Linked DNA regions of Homo sapiens: region 2 is linked to region 1. The links come from fine-mapping of genetic effects on gene expression. Tissue or cell type: whole blood. Region 1 holds a variant in brackets; the other region holds the start of a gene. All regions are shown on one strand. Distances are between the middles of the regions.

Region 1 (5,370 bases):
GCGGCGATATCTTCCAAGACCCCCAGTGGGTGCCTGAAAGTACCAGACCCTATATGTACAAATGCCCCTCGGTATCCGTAGGGGGTTGGTTCCAGGACTCCCTGAGGATACTGAAATTTGTGGAATATATAAAATTGCATGGTATTTGCATATAAACCATTAATACGTACATTCTCCTGTATACGTTAAATCATCTCTAGATTACTTATAATACCTCATACAACGTAGATATTATGTAAGTAGTTGTTATGCTATATTGTTTAGGGAATAATGACAAGAAAAAAAGTGTACACATTCAGTACAGGCACAACCATCGTAGGCCTACTAACTACATTTTTGATCTGAGGCTGGCTGAATCTGTGGATGCAGAACCCATGGATACAAAGGTTTGACTGTACTTTGTTTTTCCTATACATGCATACCTATGATAAAGTTTAATTTATTAGGCATAGTAAGAGATTAACAATAACTAATGATAAAATACAACAGTTATGTGATTGTGGTCTCTCTCTTTCAAAATATCTTATTGTATGTAATGTTTTCAGATTGTGGTTGACCGTGGGTAACTGAAACCTTGGAAAGCAAAATCAAGGATAATGGGGGGTACTCCTGTAGATCCAAAGCATTTCAGTTCAGCATTAATAGGGACAGGAATTGCCAGGCCACTAGAGTTTCACTTTCTCTTCTACATTCCCCTTTCCTTTCCTGCTTTTGGGCATAGGGGAGCATTTGTTTGTTTTGTATACATATCTCTTATCTCTGCCTACCTGAAATTTATATTCTAGTCAAGGATACAGATAGCAAACAAGATAAATAAGTAAAGCATTAGTATGTTACGATACTTGCCCAGGTGAACCAGAAAAATCTGAGACTGAGTATAGGAATTTGGGGAAGCTTGATTTTGGCTGAAAGTGCTGCTCATTTGGGAATCTGAGGTGCATTTCTAGCTTTTCTTTACTGGCCAGGCACTGCCCTCTTCAGACCATTGTTTGGCTAAGGAAAACGAATGTACATCTGAATTCTAGAGACACTCTGTGCTGGAGATGGATTTGCACTATAACAGGCATTTCACATACTTATCGTTTGAACTGTCTCATATTTTTGTTAAACAGTTTTTAATCCCTGTTTAAAGATGATTCTGGTGCCAAGGGATGAAGTGACTTGCTTAAAGTGGTGTGAAACTCTATACTTTTTTTTTTTTTCTTTTTAAAAAGGTACAACTGAGGCCGGGCACAGTGGCTCACGCCTGTAATCCCAGCACTTTGGGAGGCTGAGGCGGGCAGATCACCTGAGGTCAGGAGTTGGAGACCAGCCTGACCAATGTGATGAAAACCCGTCTCTACTAAAAATACAAAAATTAGCCGGGCATGGTGACATGCGCCTGTAATCCCAGCTACTCGGGAGGCTGAGACAGGAGAATTGCTTGAACCCGGGAGGCAGAAGTTGCAATGAGCCGAGATCGCGCCATTACACTCTAGCCTGGGCAACAAAAGTGAAAGTCCGTCTCAAAAAAAAAAAAAAAAAAAGGTACAACTGGGCTGGGCGTGGTGGCTCACACCTGTAATCCCAGCACTTTGGGAGGCTGAGGCAGGTGGATCACGAGGTCAGGTGTTTGAGACCAGCCTGACCAACATGGTGAAACCCCGTTGCTACTAAAAATACAAAAATTAGCCGGGCATGGTGGCATGCACCTGTAATCTCAGCTACTCAGGAGGTTGAGGTAGGAGAATTGCTTGAACCCGAGAGGCATAAGTTGGAGTCAGCCGAGGTCACGCACTGCACTCCAGCCTGGTGACAGAGCGAGGCTCTGTCTCGAAAAAAAAAAAAAAGGTACAACCTTCCAGATTGGCCAACATGATGAAATCCTGTCTTTACCAAAAATAAAAAAATTAGCAGGCCCTGGTGGCACAGGTCTGTAATCCCAACTGCTAGGGTGACTGTGGCAGGAGAATCACATGAAACCGGGAGGTGGAGGTTGCAGTGAGCTGAGATGGCGTCATTGCACTCCAGCATGGGCGACAGAGCAAACAAGACTCCATCTCAAAAAAAAAAAAAAGGTACAACCTTAATTTATTTGATTGTCAGTTAACCTTTGGGCATGTAGCCCAAATGCTCCCAGACTGGATACGAGACTCTCTTAAGATTAAAAATACAGATTCCTGGCTGGGCGCAGTGGCTCATGCCTATAATCCCAGCACTTTGGGAGGCTGAAGCTGGCAGATCACTTGAGCTTAGGAGTTGAAGAACAGCCTGGGAACATGGTGAAACCCCATCTCTACAAAAACTGGCTATGATGGCATGTGCTTATAGTCCCAGCTACTCAGGAGGCTGAGGTGGGAGGATCACCTGAGCCCAGGATAGGAGGTTGAGGCTGCAGTGGGCCATGATTGCACCACTGCACTCCAGCCGGGGTGACAGATTGAGACACCCTGTCTCAAAAGAAAAAAAAAAAAAGATTCCTGGCCCGGCCCCCATCCCAGACCTGCTAATTAAGAATCTGGAGGGTAGAATTGGATTGAGTAGCTGAGGAGGTTGAGGTTCAACCTGGTTGATTGTCTTGACCACTCCCTCAGGAAGTTGGTCTGAGAACTGGGATTG[G/A]ACCCCAGATGTACTTACTGCCTCTCAGTTTACTGCTCTTTGCACCTGGTTGTACTGCTGCCTTTTGAGATAAAAAGTTGTAAAGAAGGGGACGTTTAATTTTATGAGATGACATTTTGGTTCTTGTTTCATAGTTTTCTTGGGGTCTTACTATTGTTTTGGTCACCCTGGTTTGTTTTTGTTTTTGTTTTTGTTTTGAGACCGAGTCTCACTCTGTCACCCAGGCTGGAGTGCAGTGGTGCGATCTCGGCTCACTGTGACCTCCACCTCCCAGGTTCAAGTGATTCTCCTGCCTCAGCCTCCCAAGTAGCTGGGACTACAGGCGCGTGCCATCACACCCGGCTAATATTTGTATTTTCAGTAGAGACCAGGTTTCACCATATTGGCCAGGCTGGTCTCGAACTCATGATCCGCCCTCCTCGGCCTCCCAAAGTGCTGGGATTACAGGCGTGAGCCACCGCGCCTGGCAACCCTTGGTTTTAAGCAGTACCTGAAAGGATTTTTTCCAGAGAAGTTACTTGGTTTCCTTAGTGGCTTTTGTAATTTGTTTGAAATAGGGAGAAATTGGTTAAGTTTAGTCTTAGGAAAAAGTGATCTTCATCATTTTAGGAAGAGCATTTTCTCTGGAAATGATGATAGCCACCTGTTATGGAAAATGTGGCTAATGAAAGTGCCCTGGATGAAGAGAGAAGGACTTATCATTTGTTGGGATTCATTAGTTTGATGCTGTAGCTGCTTTATTTGAAGGGCCCTTTCTGGTGCCAAAGAAGTGAAGAAGCATCAGTCACTTGGTTGTGGTTTTTCTGGCATGCCTCTTTTTGGTAGACAGCTGTGAGGTGGTTATTATGGTTGTTTCTCATAATCTGATTGAGTTTTGCTACATGATTCAATGACTCTTCCCCTTTTGGTCTCCTTCTTCTAACCTTAGTGAGTTTTCTCTTATCTTCTGGTCTGGAAGGATAGAGATATGGTAGTCTATATATCTCTAAGCCCAGAAGAGAATGAGGCCTTTGTCTTGTTTTACATCACTTTCTAGATGTTCTTGGTTTGACATCTGGTTGCAAGCGCCTTCCTGGAGGTTTGATCAGGCTAGTGCTTCAGGGGATATCATTGGAATGGGCTAAGTCTGCAAAGGGGAATGTGTCTGATCTTCTAGAATGGTTTCTGTAAGCAGAATGGGGTAGATAGAACTTTTCACTGATTTTTGTGGTGGTTTTTTTTGTTTGTTTTCAAGATAGAGCCTTGCTCTGTCACCCAGGCTGGAGTGCAGTGGTGTGATCTCTGCTCACTACAACCTCTGCCTCCCAGGTTCAAGCGATTCTCCTGCCTCAGCCTCCCGAGTAGCTGGGATTACAGGCACGTGCCACCATGCCAGGCTAATTTTGGTATTTTTAGTAGAGACGGGGTTTCACCATGTTGGCCAGCCTGGTCTCAAGCTCCTGACCTCAGGCGATCTGCCGCCTTGGCCACCCAACGTGTTGGGATTACATGCGTGAGTCACTGCGTCTGGCCAATTTTTATTCCACTTGGAAATTTATGGAAGTTTGAAAGAATTTTTAAAAAACAAAACTTTTTTGGGGAGTGGTAGTTGCAAACTAGTTGTTGATTCCTCTCTCACCAAAGGCAGATGGTCAGTTTGTTTAGAACTTGAATGAACTAGAATGAAGGAATTGTGAAGTAGAAAACTGAGTTATGGTTCCTAGGTTATGAATGAAGAGAATCATAGGCTGAGTGGGTTTGATTCCCTGTGACAGGTGTTGGTATAATCTAATGAGATTTTTTTATTTTCCTGTCATCAGCTTGGCTTCAGGAAATCTTTAGTGTTGTCTCTGTTGAGGCCAAATAGGAGGTTAGAAATCTCTTATTGTCCTAGGTCATATAAAAAGTCATGTTTCCCCACTATTTAAAACAAGATGAAGGTAGTCTCCTTATTTTAGGAGGCGGGGTCTAGGAGTAAAACTAAGACAAACATGTTTCTGGACAATTTCTCCTCAATTGGGGGCTAGGGGTTCTTGACTAGTCTTCAAAGAAGGTCTGAAATACTAGGGGATATAGAAAAGACAGGATAAGGGGCGTTAGATACAGTTGTCTGGCTGGGGAGAGAAGGGACAATGAGAATGATTTATGCTGGTCATTTTATGTACCAGGGTACATAGGGTGATTTTTTTGGTGGAAGCCTAGTCTGTCCTAAGATATTACTCCTGAGATCTAAGTGAGCCACGTGCAGCTGGCAGGAAGCTGAAAGCTGTTGGTTGGGAGAGGCCTTAATTTTTACACTTGCCCCTGCCTGGAATGCCCTATCACAGGGGAGGGTCCCATACTGGAACTGGATCAACAGCTGTCGCCTGTCCCTGGAATCACAGGAAGCGGAGGACGGGGTGCCTTTGTATAGGGAGCTCTGAAGCCAGACAATAGTTTGTGCTGGCGGGGCCATGTGGCGAGTCATGTGACCTGGGGCTGTTTTCTGCTGGGGTCCTTACCCATCTGTTCTCTCGGCTCTTTCTGGGTTATCAGGCGCCAGTCCAAGTCCTCCCAGGCAGCCAGCTTCATGGCCAGAGATTACGAGCACTAACCTTCCTGGCAGGGGCGGTGTGGCTTCGAGTTTATGCAGATTAGCCATGTGTTTCTCACTTCAAGGCGTTCCACAGGAAAAGCCTTTTCCTGTGTTTGGCTCTCAGTGGGCGGTTCCCAGCTTACTGTACTGGGACTCAGCAAGCAGCAGGCATGCACCAGAGGGATCACAGTACACTGGCCCCCCTCTCCATTCCACCT
Region 2 (5,370 bases), 67 kb after region 1:
CCTTTGTGATCCTTAGCTCCCTCATCCATAAAATATAGGTATAGGATTAAAGAAATTGATTTATTGACCAGATCTTTATTGAAGACACACAGTGTGCAAGGCACTGTTCTAACTGGAAATACATTGGTGAACAAAGCCCTTGCTCCTCCATTACACTCAGAAGCTTACATTCTAGAATAGGGAAACAGACATTGAAACAAGTAAAATTCATGGACAGGACAAGCAGATAGTGTTAAGTGCTATGAAGAAAACAGAGGCCGGGCGCAGTGGCTCACACCTGTAATCCCAGCATTTTGGGAGGCCAAGGTGGGTGGATCCTTTGAGCCTAGGAGTTCCAGACTAGCCTTGGCAATATAGTGAGACCTCATCTTTAAAAAAAAAAAAAAAAAAAAAAAAAAACAGAACAGACTGATGGGATAGTACAGGGAAAGCCTCTCTAAGGAGGTGACTTCTCTCCGGAGACCCAAACATAATGGGCTAGCCAAAGGGTGGTCTGGAAGTAGAGTGCTTCAAGCAGGGAAAATAGCAAGAGCAGAGCCAGGCAAGTTCAAAGAACAGAAATGATGTAACCCTCTTAAATCCTAAGCTTCTAGAATAGTAATGCATTGCTTGCATTGTTCTGGTTAGGGATTTGTATGTGATATTGTTTCTTGGTGATGTGGGATATGTGCTTCTTAATGGAAATGGCTGGGAAGTGTGGAGTCTTTCTGGAGCCTGGGATATGGCTCTTTCTCACTTGCTTTCCACAGTTCTGGTAGCTCAGCTGGCTCCCTGGGTAGATGCAGGCTCCATCTTAGCTGCAGACTCTACAAGAACACTGAGAGGCTGCCTCCGTCACTACTCAAAGCCTTGGAGTCCCAGAATCCCCTCCTATCCCACCTAGCCTTCTTCCAATCTGAAACCAGGGAGTCAGGGCTTTGAGAGCACAAGATTCAGCTTCCTTGTTTTCCTGTCAGAGCAGAAGTCAGAAAATGAAACAGGAAACAGAGCGGAAGAGGAGGGGGTTGGGTAGCAGAGAAGGAAAAGAGAAATTGCAGGAAAGTACAGCTGAAAATCTGGATAAAGTTCTACCTCTACAGGGTGACAGCTGAGCTTTTAAAAAACATTCTGACTTGTCTTGAGAGACCCCTGGCCTTTTTACAAATAGATTTTTGAGAGAATTTGATGTGGACAGAGGGAACCCTGAGAATGCATGTCTTTTTTCCCCTTGTGAATTTACAGAGCAAGGACAGTTCATTTCTCAGTTTTGTCTTTGCAGAGAGAGTGCTGCTTGGAGCCTCATGGTGGACTTCTAGAGATTCAAGTCACAGCCTTAGGCCCCAGTCACAAGTGTGTCCCCAGGCTTTGCCACGTTACTCACAGGCCTCTGGAGCTGAGAACAAGTGCGTGGCACTGAAAAACCTGGGGGAAGGGCCATGAAACTCCATTTTTTCCCCCTTCTCCAACACACAACGACTAAATATGATTTGCCTTTTCTCCACCTTGCACACAACAGATATCTGAAGGCAATTTAGGTCTCAGGGCCTGAAATGAGTTACAGAGTCAAGAGATACAGTCCCAGGCCCCCACAGACTGATGTGGGCTGGTCTTCGCCTGGAGAGGTAGCAACCATCTCTTTGTTCCCACCCACATGAGTAGCCGTTGCAGAAGATAAACCCCTCCCTGAGCCAGGCTGTGGCCAGAGGCTAACCCGGCCCCTGGCTTCGTTTGGAGGGCAGATAACTGAAACCACATAAGGCTTTGGAATCCTGAGAAACAAGAAATCCACCAACGGAGAAGGATTTATCATCTGTTTCCTTTAAGGAGGGTGCAAAGTTGTTCTAACAGTTTCCGTTACAAGGGTACAAACTGGCCGCTCCCCCCAATAGACGGTTTTGTTGAGTTCGCCTCTTTTTTTTTCTTCTTTTTTTGGCCCCACTTCCTATGAGAGAAACTGCTTGGGTGAGGGAGGTGAAAGGAGCCCTGGAGGGTGTTCTCTGAGGTTTTCTTCACCATCCTCATTAGCCACCTGAGGTGGGGCTGAGGACTAAAGTAGGACAGAAGGTCTCTGGTAGATAGAGGAGGGGAAAATCAGGGGGATCCCCCACTTTCTTCACACCCAGGACGCAGGGTGCCGCTGCCGGCCACAGAAACCCCAAGAATGTTTTTCTTTGGCTATTCAGAGGACATCTATTGTGTGTCAGGCCCTGTGCTGAGCTGTTGTTGCCTGACAGCAGGAAGAGCGCGGCTCTGGTTTCTGTGAAGAGGCTGCGGGTCAGCCTCCGACTACAAGAGCCTCGGCCCACACCGGGAACTCAGTGAACGTCAGCGGGAGCTGGGGCAAGAGCACTGACTCTGAGACAGCAGCCTCCGCTCACTATTTGAAGGCGGGGTGGCGGGGGGCCTTGAAGGAGAGCGAAGTGCGAGAGAACTCTTCAGGTGTCACCAAGGTGGGAAGGTGCTACGAGGCGAGGCGCCGAGCGGCGACCCCCATCCCGCTCGCCCGGAGTCAACATGGCCGCCGCGCAGGGAGGCGGGGCTGCTCCAAGTCCGGGCAGGAGCGGGGCGGGGACGCCGTCGGCGGAGCCAGCGCGCAGGCGCGGGCCGCGTGGGCCCCGGATGGAGGAGCTGAGGTTCGGTCCCCGCCGGGGAGGTCGGGACGGGCAGGGGCTGAGGACCCCGCGCCAGCTTGGGAGCCCTGGAGTTCTGGCGGGAGGGAAGCTGTCAAATGGAAGCCGGTAGAAATGAGACAGACGCCCGGAGAAGCGGGGAGCCCCGCCCCTCCGCCATAGCAGCCTCGGGCGCCGCCTCTTCCTTTCCAGCCTCCCGCCCTCGTCTGCTTCCGGCCCTGTGGCCTGGTGGGGCTCTGCAGGCTCCCTCGGGAGTGGTCCTTGGGCCGTGGCCCCTCTGGGGTGAGCGTGGATGATTAGTACCCAGAAGGGACTGTGTCCAAAAGGAGCCGGCCAGAAACGGGTTGCGGACACGGCTGGGCTGACAGAAGGCAGCCCCCACGAGGCCTTTGGCTCTGAGGACCCTGGGTCAGAGCGACTTCTCCAGCCTGCGCAGGGGGTGTTAGTCTTACCCAGAGGGTCCAGAGCTGCCGTTCAACAGGATGTCCCAGATTCTCAGATAGGGCCCAACTACCCTAAGCATACCTAGCAAGGGCAGGCTGCGGCATGGAAGTACTGGGCTAGGCGTTTGGGTGACCTGGGTCATAATCCTGGCTCGGAAAGGGCGCGTACCCTTTGGCGAGGGATGCGGGCTGGTACCGTGAGGTTTAAGAAGCAGAAAACATGACAGCCTCTTTAAGTAGCCCTGGGTACGTCACTTGACCCCAGTGAGCCTCAGTTTCCATATCCATAAAATGGCGATGGTAATTATACTAGCCTCACAGTGTCTGATGAGATCTCTGGAGCCTATTTATCTCACGGGAAAATTTTTGAAGAGTGAAACTAGTTGATCTGTAAGTGTCCTGCCAGTTAAGAGTCTGTGATTTGGCAAAGGGGTTGTTGGGAAGTGAGGTGGGCAATTAGCTGAGAGGGAGAATTGACTAGCTTTGTTTTTACTTGGTTTACCTGTAAGCAAAGTGTGGGCTACACACATCTGTAGTCGCTGAGGCTAGAGCTTGACTCGAGAGAGGAAAGGAAGAATGCAAGCATGGTCAAGTGGCAGAGGTGGGTTAGGTGCTTTTCTGATCCCAGCTTCTCTTCTGCATGCGCGTGGGAAGCCAAGGAAGAGGAAAAAAGAGTGAATTCGCCCTAGGATAGGGAAGGAGTAGCCGCGTGAGGTTGAGTATGCCCATTTCCGTGATTTCTCTCGATTCAGCGAGTCATACGTTGGAAACGTTTAGATTCACAAACTATCGTTACTGTCTGGGGCTTTCAGAAGCTTGCCTTTGAACCGAATTTTCGTGAGCCAACCGGTGTGGAATTGGGGGCCCCTCCCTTCCTCCAGGCCTCCTGGCGATGGAGTAAGCAGCAGGCGCCCCCTTGTGCCAAGGAAAGAGTACTGTTGCCATTGGCCAACTTGGCTCCCTTTCTGGGGAAATTTTATTTTCCTGTGGCTTCTGTGACTTTGTCGTCTTGCTCTTGACATGAGATATGATGGGAAGAATACTTGGGGCACTGATTTCATATCTAGAGTCAGTGAACTGCTGATGCTGTATCCTGTCCCTACCACTTCCATTCATTCAGAACACAGGTTTAAGATGCCTATTTGTGTTCTAGGCCCTGGGATATAGTTGTGATGTAAAGCCCCTGCCCTTAGCAACTTAAATAAGCAATAGCAATAACGGCAATAGGGCAGAATGTAATGAGGGCATAGCACACTGTCTAGTGAGGATCAGAGAATTCCAGAAACAAGTGATACAGGTTTTTTAGGTATTCGCCAGATAAGAGAAGAAAAAGAGTCTTCCAGCCGTCCTCCTTAAATTTCTCAGTTCAAATTTTTTTTTTCCTTTTAGGCATAGTTCTTCATCCCAAATTGATGAGCTGCCTCTGATGCTTTTGCTTTCCTTTCAAATTTCCCAGGCTGGTGTTTGAAAGTTCTTGAGGAGCCTTTATGACTCCTTTTAGCTCAAGGAATTATAAAAGATGCCTTAAGGTGCATTCCCTGCCTCGGAGTGGCTTTGCGATTGTTTATACGTTGCTACCATCCCAACAAAGAGATGGCAAATAACAGTTTTCTCCATCCCTGGTAGTCTACTCTGTCTTCACCCTCAGTTTGTTTCAGCAGTGTGAGCTGGCTGAGGTCCTGCTGAGTGGTGGTTTTCTTTTCCTTCCCCACTTAATTTAACAGACCAGCTGAACACACATCAGAGAGCTAAGCTAGAGTGTGGAGTCATTATGGTCTTCTAGTATGGTTTTATGCCCCACTTTGGGGACTCTGGTTTGGGACCTAGTTTATTATTCTGGGCAAGAGGAAAAGGGCACACGCCAAATAATAGCAACCACAACACAGATTTGAGTAGAACTTCACACTTTGGTCTGTTTCACCATCATGACAATTTTGTGAGATAGGAAAAAAAAAAAGTCTGCTCCCATTTTTTATATAAAGAACTGAGGCTCAGAGGGACTAATGAGAACTTGTAAGTGACAGAGTCAGGAGTTGAACCCAGATCTTTAGTTCCTGCAGAAGTGCATCCAATAGGCTTTAAAAGATTTCTGTGACCTTAGCTTTCCAGCTACTTGCTTAGCTGTATGGAACTTTACCAACGACAGTTCAGGGCTTCACAGTGACACCTACTGAACCCATTTGCTGTCAAGATGCTTTCCCCTCATCTGGGAAGTTAGGTGGTTGGTTAAGTTTGTCATAGTAATTCTGAGAGGGGAGGTTCCAGTGACGAATGCTTTCAAGAATTTGCTTTCACTCGATGTGTGACATTTTCCTCCT

The links. PIP is the estimated chance that this variant, and not a neighbour inherited with it, causes the effect.
Region 2: it holds the start of PIGV, and the variant in region 1 is fine-mapped to the expression of PIGV in whole blood (INTERVAL, PIP 0.92).

What each region holds. Positions count from the first base shown.
Region 1 is chr1:26,718,435-26,723,804 of GRCh38, forward strand. The region is part of intron 1 of ARID1A (AT-rich interaction domain 1A); the gene reads left to right. Among named protein-coding and RNA genes, the nearest start is that of ARID1A, 25 kb to the left of the region's middle. RefSeq lists enhancers at 3,475-4,055, 4,056-4,635, 4,666-5,370, 4,695-5,370. The variant G/A (reference allele first, on the strand shown) is at 2,599.
Region 2 is chr1:26,785,378-26,790,747 of GRCh38, forward strand. PIGV (phosphatidylinositol glycan anchor biosynthesis class V) reads left to right here and starts at 2,573. Exons shown (of 4, transcript NM_017837.4): 1 at 2,573-2,891. RefSeq lists enhancers at 1,343-1,492, 2,013-2,452, 2,499-3,325, 3,013-3,212, 4,020-4,149 and a silencer at 2,503-2,712.